Regions from separate parts of the Homo sapiens genome. Here region 2 is linked to region 1. The links come from fine-mapping of genetic effects on gene expression. A gene starts in region 1. The other region holds a variant in brackets. All regions are shown on one strand. Distances are between the middles of the regions. Region 1 holds the start of TMEM181 (transmembrane protein 181). Region 2 overlaps TMEM181 (transmembrane protein 181).

Evidence for each region. PIP is the estimated chance that this variant, and not a neighbour inherited with it, causes the effect.
Region 2: its variant is fine-mapped to the expression of TMEM181 in whole blood (TOPMed, PIP above 0.99).

The regions. Positions count from the first base shown.
Region 1 is chr6:158,556,760-158,562,133 of GRCh38, reverse strand. TMEM181 (transmembrane protein 181) reads right to left here and starts at 2,043. Exons shown (of 17, transcript NM_001376852.1): 1 at 1,902-2,043. The coding sequence starts at 1,909. RefSeq lists enhancers at 12-511, 512-1,013 and a silencer at 1,433-2,352.
Region 2 is chr6:158,618,246-158,623,619 of GRCh38, reverse strand. It overlaps TMEM181 (transmembrane protein 181), which reads right to left. Exons shown (of 17, transcript NM_001376852.1): 11 at 13-70. Among named protein-coding and RNA genes, the nearest start is that of MIR7161, 11 kb to the right of the region's middle. The variant T/C (reference allele first, on the strand shown) is at 2,780.

The sequences.
Region 1 (5,374 bases):
GCCAGGGTCTGCAGGGGGACGGTCCCCTACACACCGTAAGCAGAGTGGTGGAGCTGCCCCTGCTCCTCCAAGCGGCTCTGTTCTCTCCCATTCTTTCCCTGGACTTCTCTTCTTTCTCACCTTTCTCACCTCTGGGCTCTCAGGCACACCAGACAAGGACAGAGAACACTCAGTCACCTAAGTCCAGGACGCACTTCGGATTTTCAGGCTTGTTTTTTAGGAGGATTTTATCTGCTACCAAACTCTTCTCAGTTTCCAGGTAGGTGCCTGGAATGCTGGCCGATGGTGGTGGGCTGATTTCCAGATACCCTCATCCCCCTCCGTCTTCCCTAACCCTCTTAGTGCTCCACAGAGCCTGAGGCACAAAGCGCTTACAGCTGCAGGGGGAGGCCTCAAACTCGCACAAAATTCAAGCTGCGTTTTGCTTGTCCTCCTCGGGACCTTTCCTTGGTCAACTGCTTTCTTTGGTCTAGTTCCCTGTCCTGTAACAGCGCAGGACCCTGGCAGAAGACCCAGATCCCTGTCCTGGCCAAGGCCCTCACCACCTCACGTCCCCGGCCTCTCTCCTACTGAAAAAGCACACCCAGCCCACCTATGCAGCTCCAAGGGGCAGCGCGTGAGAGAACTCCTGTAACACGCAGCTGTCACTCTGCTACAAGGCCACAGTTCCACAAGACACCGTTCCAAGCAGTATTATTTACATAGGCCGCACAAGAATCTTGCCCTCTGGAGTTGTGCAGAGGCAATACTGCTAACCTACCTCCACTTGGCTTTTAAAATCTTTAAAACATCCACATAGGTCTGATATTTGATGCCATTCCAGTTTCCCAAGAGGTGCTAAAGCAACATACCAAAGTCAGAAACTTCTAAGGAAGCAGAAGGAAAAACAGATCTCTCTGTCACAGGCACTTGCGCTGAGGCAACAGGCCTGGGTGTCACTTCTCTGACCACGTCCACAGCCAGAGAAATCAGCAAAGATCCAAAGCAAAACCCTTCTGCCTCAAAAACCGCATATAAGCCAAGAAGCGCGCCCAGGCCCCTCGGAGGCTGCCTTCAGTGCAGGGAGCCGGCCCTGGAAGCCTCCTGCGCCAGGCGCGGCTGCACATATGGGCCACTCCTTCTCCCGGACTTTCTGCAACTCCACGCGGCGCTAACCCTCTGGTTAACTCCGTCTCCTTCTTTTCCAGATGCGCCCAGGGGGACACCTAGGCGACTGCTGGGTCAAAAGCAAGCTTTAGGGATGGCGTCCACGAGACCCCAAACAGGTTTTTCCTCATTAAAAACCCTGGACTTCAAAGAGGTAAAGAAAAAAAAAAAAGCCCAAAGTCAGCAGATCGTAAAACGCATAAAACTCATATAACTCGACACCCCGAGTCCAAAGGGGCTGTTGCGGCAGGCTCCCCGGTGCCCACGTCACCAATCGCCTCTGAGAGCCTCGCACCCGGCGCTGGGCGAGACCGCAGGGCAGCGCGGGGCGCTCTCGATACCGAGGGGACGACGGGGCGGGGCCTTTCCGGCAGGAGAGGCTGCCCGGGAGGCGGCGGGACTCCGTGCGGGCGGCCACCCTACGCCGGGGAAGGGCCGCAGCGCCCCCGGTTCTCTCGGCCCCCCGGTGAGCGCTGTGGCTCGCAGCCCCGTCCCGGAACCCCGACCGCATCCCGGTCTCTAACCGCGGCCGGGCGGGCAGGCAGGAGGGAGCCCCGGCCCCGGTCTACTCTCGCCCCGCGCAAACACCTCCGCCTGACCCGCCCGCGAAGCCCCCTTCAGCGCCCTTTTCCCTGCCCCCAGTTCCACGTGGGCGCCAGGGACCCTGCGGCACGGCGCCGGGAGCCAGGGATCCCCAACTTTCGGCCGGAGTGTCCGGAGAGCCAGCCAGCCCGCCCGCTCGGCCGGGGACTCACGGCTCCATCTCGGCGCCCAGAGCCCTCGGCCCCGGCCCGCGCGTCCCGAGCCCGCCAGGCGCCGCGCAGCAGCCTCGGCAGCGGCAGCCGCAGCCGGAGCCGGAGCGACAGCGGCTGAGCAGCGGCCGGCCGCGGAAAACTCATCAGAGCGCGACGCCGAGATCACGTGCGCGGAAGCGACTCTCACGGCGGAAGAGGGCGCGGCGCGGTGGAAGCGGGGCCGCGGGCGCGCGGCGAGGGGGGTGGCCCTCCTTCGTGGCCCCGTGCCGGGGCGGAGCCCCACGGCCGGGAGCACCCAGGCTAGCCCTGAGCTGGGGCTCAAGACAGAAGGAATGAGTGAATGAATGACTTAGTTTACCTCTTGTCCCTAGGGCAGGTAAACAGCGCATTCATTCACTCCTACTTCCCGAGTGTCGGGGCGTAAGGATGGGCCTCGGGAGTCCACGAATGCCCTGCAGTTGTCTGGAAAACACTATGGGTGTCTGCATTTTTCTAGGGAGAGGAGCTATAGCTGTATATTCATTCCCTAAGGGTCTTGTGACCCCAAAAAAGGTTAAAAGCCAGGACAAACTTCTGCCACCCCGAATGATGACAGGAACCTTCCGGGCTCTTTCTGGTAGCTTCTCCCGCAAGCCGCTTCTAGACTGCAGCTAGACCAGTGGACCAAAAGCACTTTCCTGATTTCGCATCTTGGCTCAGTGTTCCCCATTTCTGTAATCAAGAATGGATGAGAACCAAGGTTTGGCTATTTCTGAGATTCTCTTTGGAGCATTACTCAAAATGTCCCGTGTTCCCGTGTGCTGTGGGTTTAAAGTCGGTCTGCATGAGTTAAATAAAGGACTTCCAAGCTTCCTTTGCAATGTATCCTCATTCATTCACTAAACTGTAAACAGGCTTACTATTGGCAGAAAAGTGTGGACATGAATAAGGAACAGTTCCTGCCCTCAGTGAAATTACAGGCAAAGAAAATTACCAACAGTAAGTTAGGTAGCCTTAGCTCAGGGTGCTACAGTGAGGAAGGGTGCCTAACTCGCCTTGGGGGAGTGGAGAAGGTAGGGGACAGAATGCAGAGTTTGGGCTGAATCTGGAGGGTGAGGTGGATATTAGGAAGAGGGGGGTTAAAAGGGGGAGATACCAAGCAAAGCACACCCTAAGCCAGGACACCAAGGAATAGTTACACAAAATCTCATTAGTGCTCTGAATCCTAAACCGCAACTCTTCAAGGAATAACAAAAGATTATTTCTTAAGTTCTTTTCATACATAAGCAGAGGGAAAGGGTTCTTCATAGCAACAAGACCGGAGAACAGAAACTGGGTACCTGCAGGGACAGACTGTTCACAGGGACGTGGGGCGCGGGAAGGGGTGAGTCGGAGGGAGTTCTATGAGCTAGAGCAGGGGTCCCCAACCCCGGAGCCTGTTAAATTACAGACGTGAGCCACCGCAACCAGCCCAAACATGCGTTTTCATGCAACACCTTCTGTTAAATGTTTAGGCCTGAGGATGCCTCCCTACTTGAGTCCTTACATAAGGAGCTGCAGCCTGGCATAGTTAACATAAAAGAGAAGACACCCTAATTGAGGAGGATGCTTTTGTAACAAACAGCTGAGTCTCAGCCAATCACAGCCAGTGAGCTTCTGTCATTGGCAGGTGGTTAGCTGATTCAAATAAGCTAGAACATAAACCTGTAACCAGTTAAGCTGTCTCTGCGCCTCAGTTCCACTTTCTGTCCATAAATGTTGTCTAACCACGTTGCAGCCCCAAAGTCCTTTGAACCTGTTGGTTCTGAGGGCTGCCCGATTCTAGAATCATGAAGAAAAGCTACTTAGGATCTTTAAATTTGCTGTCATTTTGTCTTTCGACACTTCTGATTCTAAAATGTTGGAAACTAATTCGAAAAAATATCTTAAACCCTGGGAGGGACTAAACAAAGCACATTTGCTGGCCACATTTGCCTAGAGGCAGCCAGTATCTACCTCCAGCCCAGAGCAGCATGAGATGATGTGGAAATCCCTGCTCTGTGCCAGCTGCCTGGTCTCTCCTGAGGCATCTCCAGCGAGAGGAAACTGTCACCACCCCGAGGACCCCTGGCCCTCACTGTGTGCATTTGACTCCAAACTACCTCCTGGCAATTCCTTCCTGTCAGATCTCCCTGGATTTGCTGTCCAGCGTCACCCAGGTCAGCATGAGCCCTCTCCCAACACTCCTTCAAGGATGTGAACAACCACATGGCCCTCAGCTCCTCTTCTCCCGTCATACTCGTTTTCTCATTTATTTGTTCTTCAAACATTAATGGAGCAGTGTGTGTGTGCCAGGAACAACTCTCAGCTCTGGAAACACAACACGAATAGACAGATGAGGTCCCTGTCCTTTTCTAGTCAAGAACAAACAATAACCTAAATAATTACTTAATTGACCGGGCATGGGCATGGTGGCTCACGCCTATAATCCCAGCACTTTGGGAAGGTGAGGCGGGGATCACCTGAGCTCAGGAGTTCAAGACCATCTTGGCCAATATGGCGAAATCCATCTCTACTAAAAATACAAAAATTAGCTGGGCGTGATGGCGGGTGCCTGTAATCCCAGGTACTTGGGAGGCTGAAGCAGGAGAATTGCTTAAACCCAGGGGGTGGAGCTTGCAGTGAGCCAAGATCACGCCACTGCACTCCAGCCTGAGCAACAGAGCAAGACTCTGTCTCAAATAAATAAATAAATAAATAAATAAATAATTACAGCTGTGATAGAAAAGGAAATGAAAGGTGCTATGATCATGTTATGAAAAGGGGAAAGGGACCCAAACTATTCTGGGCTCTAAGAAGCCTGGTGTGATCTATCAGCCATTTCTCACATGACCTGTTTGTTTTTGAGACAGAGTCTCCCTGTCACCCAGGCTAGAATGCAGTGGCGCAATCTCGGCTCACTGCAGCCTCTGCCTCCCACTCAAAAGATCCTCCGGCCTCAGTCTCCCATGTAGCTGAGACTACAGGTGTGCACTAACACAACCAGCTAATTTTGTATTTTTTGTAGAGACAAGGTTTCACTATGTTGTCCAGGCTGGTCTTGAACTCCTGGGCTCAAGCAGTCTGCCTGCCTCAGCCTCCCAAAGTGCTGGGATCCTAGGAGGTGCACCGCCTTTGGAGATAAGCTACTGTGAAAGTTGTCAGAATTAAAATGGAGTCACTTGTATTAAAAACAGGCCAGGTGCAGTGGCTCATGCCTATAATCCCAGCACTTTGGGAGGCTGAAGAGCACGGATCACTTGAGCTCAGGAGTTTGAGACCAGCTTGGCCAACAAAATACAAAAATTACCTGAGTGTGGTGGCAGGTGCCTGTAATCCCAGCTAGTCATGAGGCTGAGGCAAGAGAATCACTTGAACCCAGGAGGCAGAGGTTACAGTGAGCCAAGATGGCGTCACTGCACTCTAGCCTGGGCAACAGAGCGAGACTCCATCTCAAAAAAAATACCAAAAACAAT
Region 2 (5,374 bases), 61 kb before region 1:
AACAATCCTTACCTGAAAATTTCCGGTATCAACTCGATACTGGTACATTGGATCATGTAATTCGTTAACTCTAAAAATTGACATTATAAATAATTATAGATTAATAACTACCTTTACTTTTTATTTTACATTTTTTCTTATTGACTTTTTGTTTTTTTTACTTATTAATATAAACTACTTCCTACCAACAGTGAAGGATTTTTACAAAGCAATCCTAAATTTATGAGAAATCCTGAATTTCATATTTCACATGAAAAAACTATACAATCCTACCAAGGGTCCACATTTATCAGTATTGGAAAGTTGCAGTATTTTTTATTACACAAAACCCTATATACTATTTCTCTTGCAGTTTTAAGAGCTGTTTTTCCAGTCACCTTTTTAATGGCACGTATGAGTACTAGGAAATAGACAAGAAAACAAAGAAAGCAATAAAAGCAAATAGAAACTTCCATGAGATTGATTTTCAAAATGAAAATGGGTGGCTGAGATGACAGGGAATTGGGGACAGGGGACTGGAGCAGACGGGGTGACTCACTTGGGTCACTGTGGCATGAAACTAGGCATGCTGGGCTCCGAAGTCACACCTGGAAACGGAGCTACTCCGTGAAAGTCCTATTCATGTGAACCAGGCTGCTACCACACTAGGCTTCTGCTGTGGGGCCATTTTACAGGACAAAAGCACTCATAAAGAGCAAGCGTGGGAGCGGGCATAGGGCTTGAAAGTGTGTGGACACAGCAGAGCATCGGTGGACAGTGGAAAGCCAGGAGCCACCCAAGATTCACTCCTACAACAAGGTCTCCCCTCTCTAAAGGAGAAATTGAAAAGGACATGGTCTTTTTCATCTTTCATCATAGACCAGTAGAATTGTGGATTCTCCACAACTCATTTAAGCAAAAACGAATGTGTCAGTTCAAGTCATACAGCTGTCCCTACTTACCCATGGTTTCACTTTCTGCAGTTTCAGTTAACTGAAATCAGCTGCAGTCAGAAAACGTTAAATGGGACATTCCAGAAAAAAGCATTCCCTAAGTTTTAAATTGCATGCCAATCTGATAGCACGATGACATCCTGCACCATCCCCCCAGGGATGTGTGCCACCCCTTTGTCCTGTGTACCCCGGCTGCAAACGTGGCTCGCCCGTCAGTCGGCCACATCATCTGCTCCTGACACACAACCACCGACACTGTCATGGCTGCGTGACCCTCCCGACATATCACAGGAAGCTCAGGAGCAGCCTAGCCCTATGTCACAATGCCTACACCATTCCCCTCACTTATCCCACACACAGGGACTGGGGCATCTCACATCATCATCATAAGAATACAGGATATTTTGAAAAAGAGAGAGCACGTCACACAACTTTTATTATAATATATTGTTATAGTTTTTCTATTTTATTGGTTATTATTAGCCTAACAAATAATCTTTATCATAGGTATGTATGTATAGAGAAAAACATACCAGAGGGCAGGCGCTGGGGAGGTCAGAGTGGTGTCATCTTGGGCAGAGGTCAGGCAGGGCAGAACAGTGTGGGCGGCCCAACGGGGCAGGCAGGGCGGGTGTCTGGGCCTCGGCAGCCAGGTGGGCTGTCCGGAGGCAGCCTTCAGGGGTGCGGCTGGCTCTGAGGGGCGCTTGGGCCCCTTCCAGCCCAGGGCAGGTGGGCGAGCTGCGGGAGCCCATGGGTCCAGCAGCCATGTGTGGACCTTAAAGCCCTTTGTGGTCTTCGGAAGCGCTTTGACAGCTCTGGACTTTGTATTGCAAAGTAATCAAAGTGCTCTGTAGCCCCTGAAGCAGTTAGGCATCTGTGAAGTGGCCTGCGCAGACAGAAGCGCTTGGTGATCTCAGAAGCACACTGAGCTTGGAAGCCAAACCAAAGCCTTTAGTAAATATCGGATCATTCTGACTTCTCCAAAGCACGCTGGCATCTCTGAAACTGTGAGAACTGTGATGGGCAGTGGGAGGAAGAGGGAAGGGGGTCCATGGTGCTGGATTGGCACAAGGTCAGGTACCACCAGAGCAGAATGTGGGAAGGTGTCCCAGCAAGCGCAGCTGCCTCCGGGAGTCCGGTGATGTGGCCCCCTCAGCTGGCCAGCTCAGAGCTCTGTGTTGGGTTCAGGACGGGCTGGTAGCCCCAAGCGCCTGAAAACCCAGGAAGAGGATGGTGTGGCTTGCTTCGCCGAGGTTATCCTGGGGCTCATCCTGCCGCAGAAGTAACTCCTCCTCCTTGACAGAGCAGGAGCACCTTCATCTTGGACAAACACTGCCACTTTCAGTGCCAGCTCCCTTTCTAACCTCCTGCATTTCAAGGAAATCACTTCTCGAGATTCTAACAAGCAGCAGCCAGAAAGAGCAGATAGTAAAACACAGATAACACAGCTGGGCACAGACAGAGAGGGGAAAGTCTCTTGGGTAAGCACCAAACTTCACACTCATACCATGTGCCCCAGTAGAACAGTGGGTCCTAATAAGCACATTCGTTTCCCTTTAGGTGCACCAAGATAGGAAAGCTAAAAGCAGACGTGGGGGCTATGCCTGCAGTTGCAGGAAGATGTATGGGGAACAGACACAAAACTCTCCCTTCCAGATAAGCAAGACAAAGAGACACACAGAAACATTTCGAGCCTGTGATAAGCTCTCCCACCCTGAACGCTTAAATACTCTTAGCCCGTAAGAGAGTGCCTCTGACCTAACTTGGCCAGAAGGCCCTCTCAGGTTTATTGTCCAAAATAAACCTATTTTTCACTGTTGAGCTGCTTTTCGTGTTTCTTTCCTCTT[T/C]AACACTTACATTTGGTGCTGAAACCCGGGACAGATGTTGGGGACAGAGGCTCTCTTGCAACCCAGGAAGCAGTGGGCAGCGGCAGCTTGTCCTGAGTTAACTCCTGGATCCTGAGAGTCTCTGGCCATGCACCCCATCTTTTCTCTCACTTCACTCTTCCAGCAATTTGTGCGAGGACAACTAATCTGAAGGGGACTGCGAGGCTCGGGCGGGGGCTACTCCCCAGTGGGCTCTCAAAACCCTCAGGTCTCAGGAATCCACCTCCAACCACCAGCGATGGGTATTTCGCTCCCTAACCCTTGCTCCCTCTTTCTCCCTCTTCTTTCTCTCTCCCTCTCCCTCTCTCTTCCTCACGCATGCCGGTTCGGGAAGCCCTTTGGTGATTCCAACTGGAACATCCAACATCAGACACTAATTCAGCTGACTGGTAAGATCTGCCTTCTCCTGGCTTTCTCGTGGTACCTGAGAAAGTTCGGTCTGCCGTCCCAGTCCTCAGAGGACCAGTGGGACTAAGCTAGAGGACATCTTGGGGGCGCCCAGTTTCTTCTCAGCTTAACTGTCCTCTTTGGAAAGAAGATTCCAGGTCTCTTGTCTGGGGATGCCTAATAAAAATAGACCCCCCCGGGCCTCCTCTCACCAGCCCACATGGTGCCAAACCATCCCACATTCCCACGCCTCCCCTCTGGGCTGTCTCCTTCACAACCTCGCCAAACTTGGCTCACAGGGACTCCTAAAGCCAAAGTGTTTAGTTTTTTATTGCAATATGGCCTGGTCCCAATACAAACAAGATAATAACAGCCAATTGCCTGAGAACAGCACCCTTTAACTTTCAGATTCTCAGGGACCTTGACAATTTTATCACCAGGAATGGCAAATGGCAAGAGGTTCCCTATACTCAGGCTTTCCTCTACCCTCTCTATGTCAACCTTGCACCCCTCATGACATCCTCCTTTTTTTTTTTTTTTTTTTTTTGAGACGGAGTCTCGCTGTGTCGCCAGGCTGGAGTGCAGTGGCGCAATCTCAGCTCACTGCAACCTCTGCCTCCCAGGTGCAAGTAATTCTCCTGCCTCAGCCTCCCAAGTAGCTGGGACTACAGGTGTGTACCATCACGCCTGGCTAATTTTTTGTATTTTAGTACAGACGGCATTTCACCATGTTGGCCAGGATGGTCTCAATCTCCTAACCTCATGATCGGCCTGCACTGGCCTCCCAAAGTGCTGGGATTATAGGCGTGAGCCACCGCGCCTGGCCAACATCCTTCTCTTACAAAAACAAAACAAAAAACCCTCCCTAGGTCTCTCCTTCCTCCAAAACTCCTTCCTCTGAATGACTTTGACGAGTTGACAGAAGTAGGCTTCAGAAGATCGGTAATAACCAACTTCTCCGAGCTAAAGGAGGATGTTCGAACCCATCGCCAAGAAGCTAAAAACCTTGAAAAAAGATTAGACAAATGGCTAACTAGAATAAACAGCACAGAGAAGACCTTAAACGACCTGATGGAGCTGAAAACCATGGCATAAGAACTACGTGACGCATGCACAAGCTTCAGTAGCCGATTCGATCAAGTGGAAGAAAGGGTATCAGTAACTGAAGATCAAATGAATGAAATGAAGCAAGAAGAGAAGTTCAGAGAAAAAAGAGTAAAAAGAAACGAACAAAGCCTCCAAGAAATATGGGACTATGTGAAAAGACCAAATCTATGTTTGATTGTTGTATCTGAAAGTGACAGAGAGAATGGAACCAAGTTGGAAAACACTCTTCAGGATATTATCCCCCAGGAGAACTTCCCCAACCTAGCAAGGCAGGCCAGCATTCAAATTCAGGAAATACAGAGAACGCCACAAAGATACTCCTTGAGAAGAGCAACCCCAAGACACATAATTGTCAGATTCACCAAGGTTGAAATGAACGAAAAAATGTTAAGGGCAGCCAGAGAGAAAGGTCAGGTTACTCACAAAGGGAAGCCCATCAGAATAATAGCTGATCTCTCAGCAGAAACTCTACAAGCCAGAAGAGTGGGGGCCAATATTCAACATTCTTAAAGAAAACACTTTTCAACCCAGAGTTTCGTATCAAGCCAAACTAAGCTTCATAAGTGAAGGAGAAATAAAATCCTTTACAGACAGCAAATGCTGAGAGATTTTTGTCACCACCAGGCCTGCCTTACAAGAGCTCCTGAAGGAAGCACTAAACATGGAAAGGAACAACGGTACCAGCCACTGCAAAAACATGCCAAACTGTAAAGACCATCAATGCTAGGAAGAAACAGCATCAACTAACAAGCAAAATAACCAGCTAATATCATAATGGCAGGATCAAATTCACACATAACAATATTAACCTTAAACGTAAATGGGCTAAATGCCCCAATTAAAAGACACAGACTGGCAAATTGGATAAAGAGTCAAGACCCATCAGTATGATGTATTCAGGAGACCCATCTCACGTGCAGAGACACACATAGGCTCAAAATAAAGGGATGGATGAATATCTACCAAGCAAATGGAAAACAACAACAACAACAACAACAAAAGCAGGGGTTGCAATCCTAGTCTCTGATAAAACAAACTTTAAACCAACAAAGATCAAAAGAG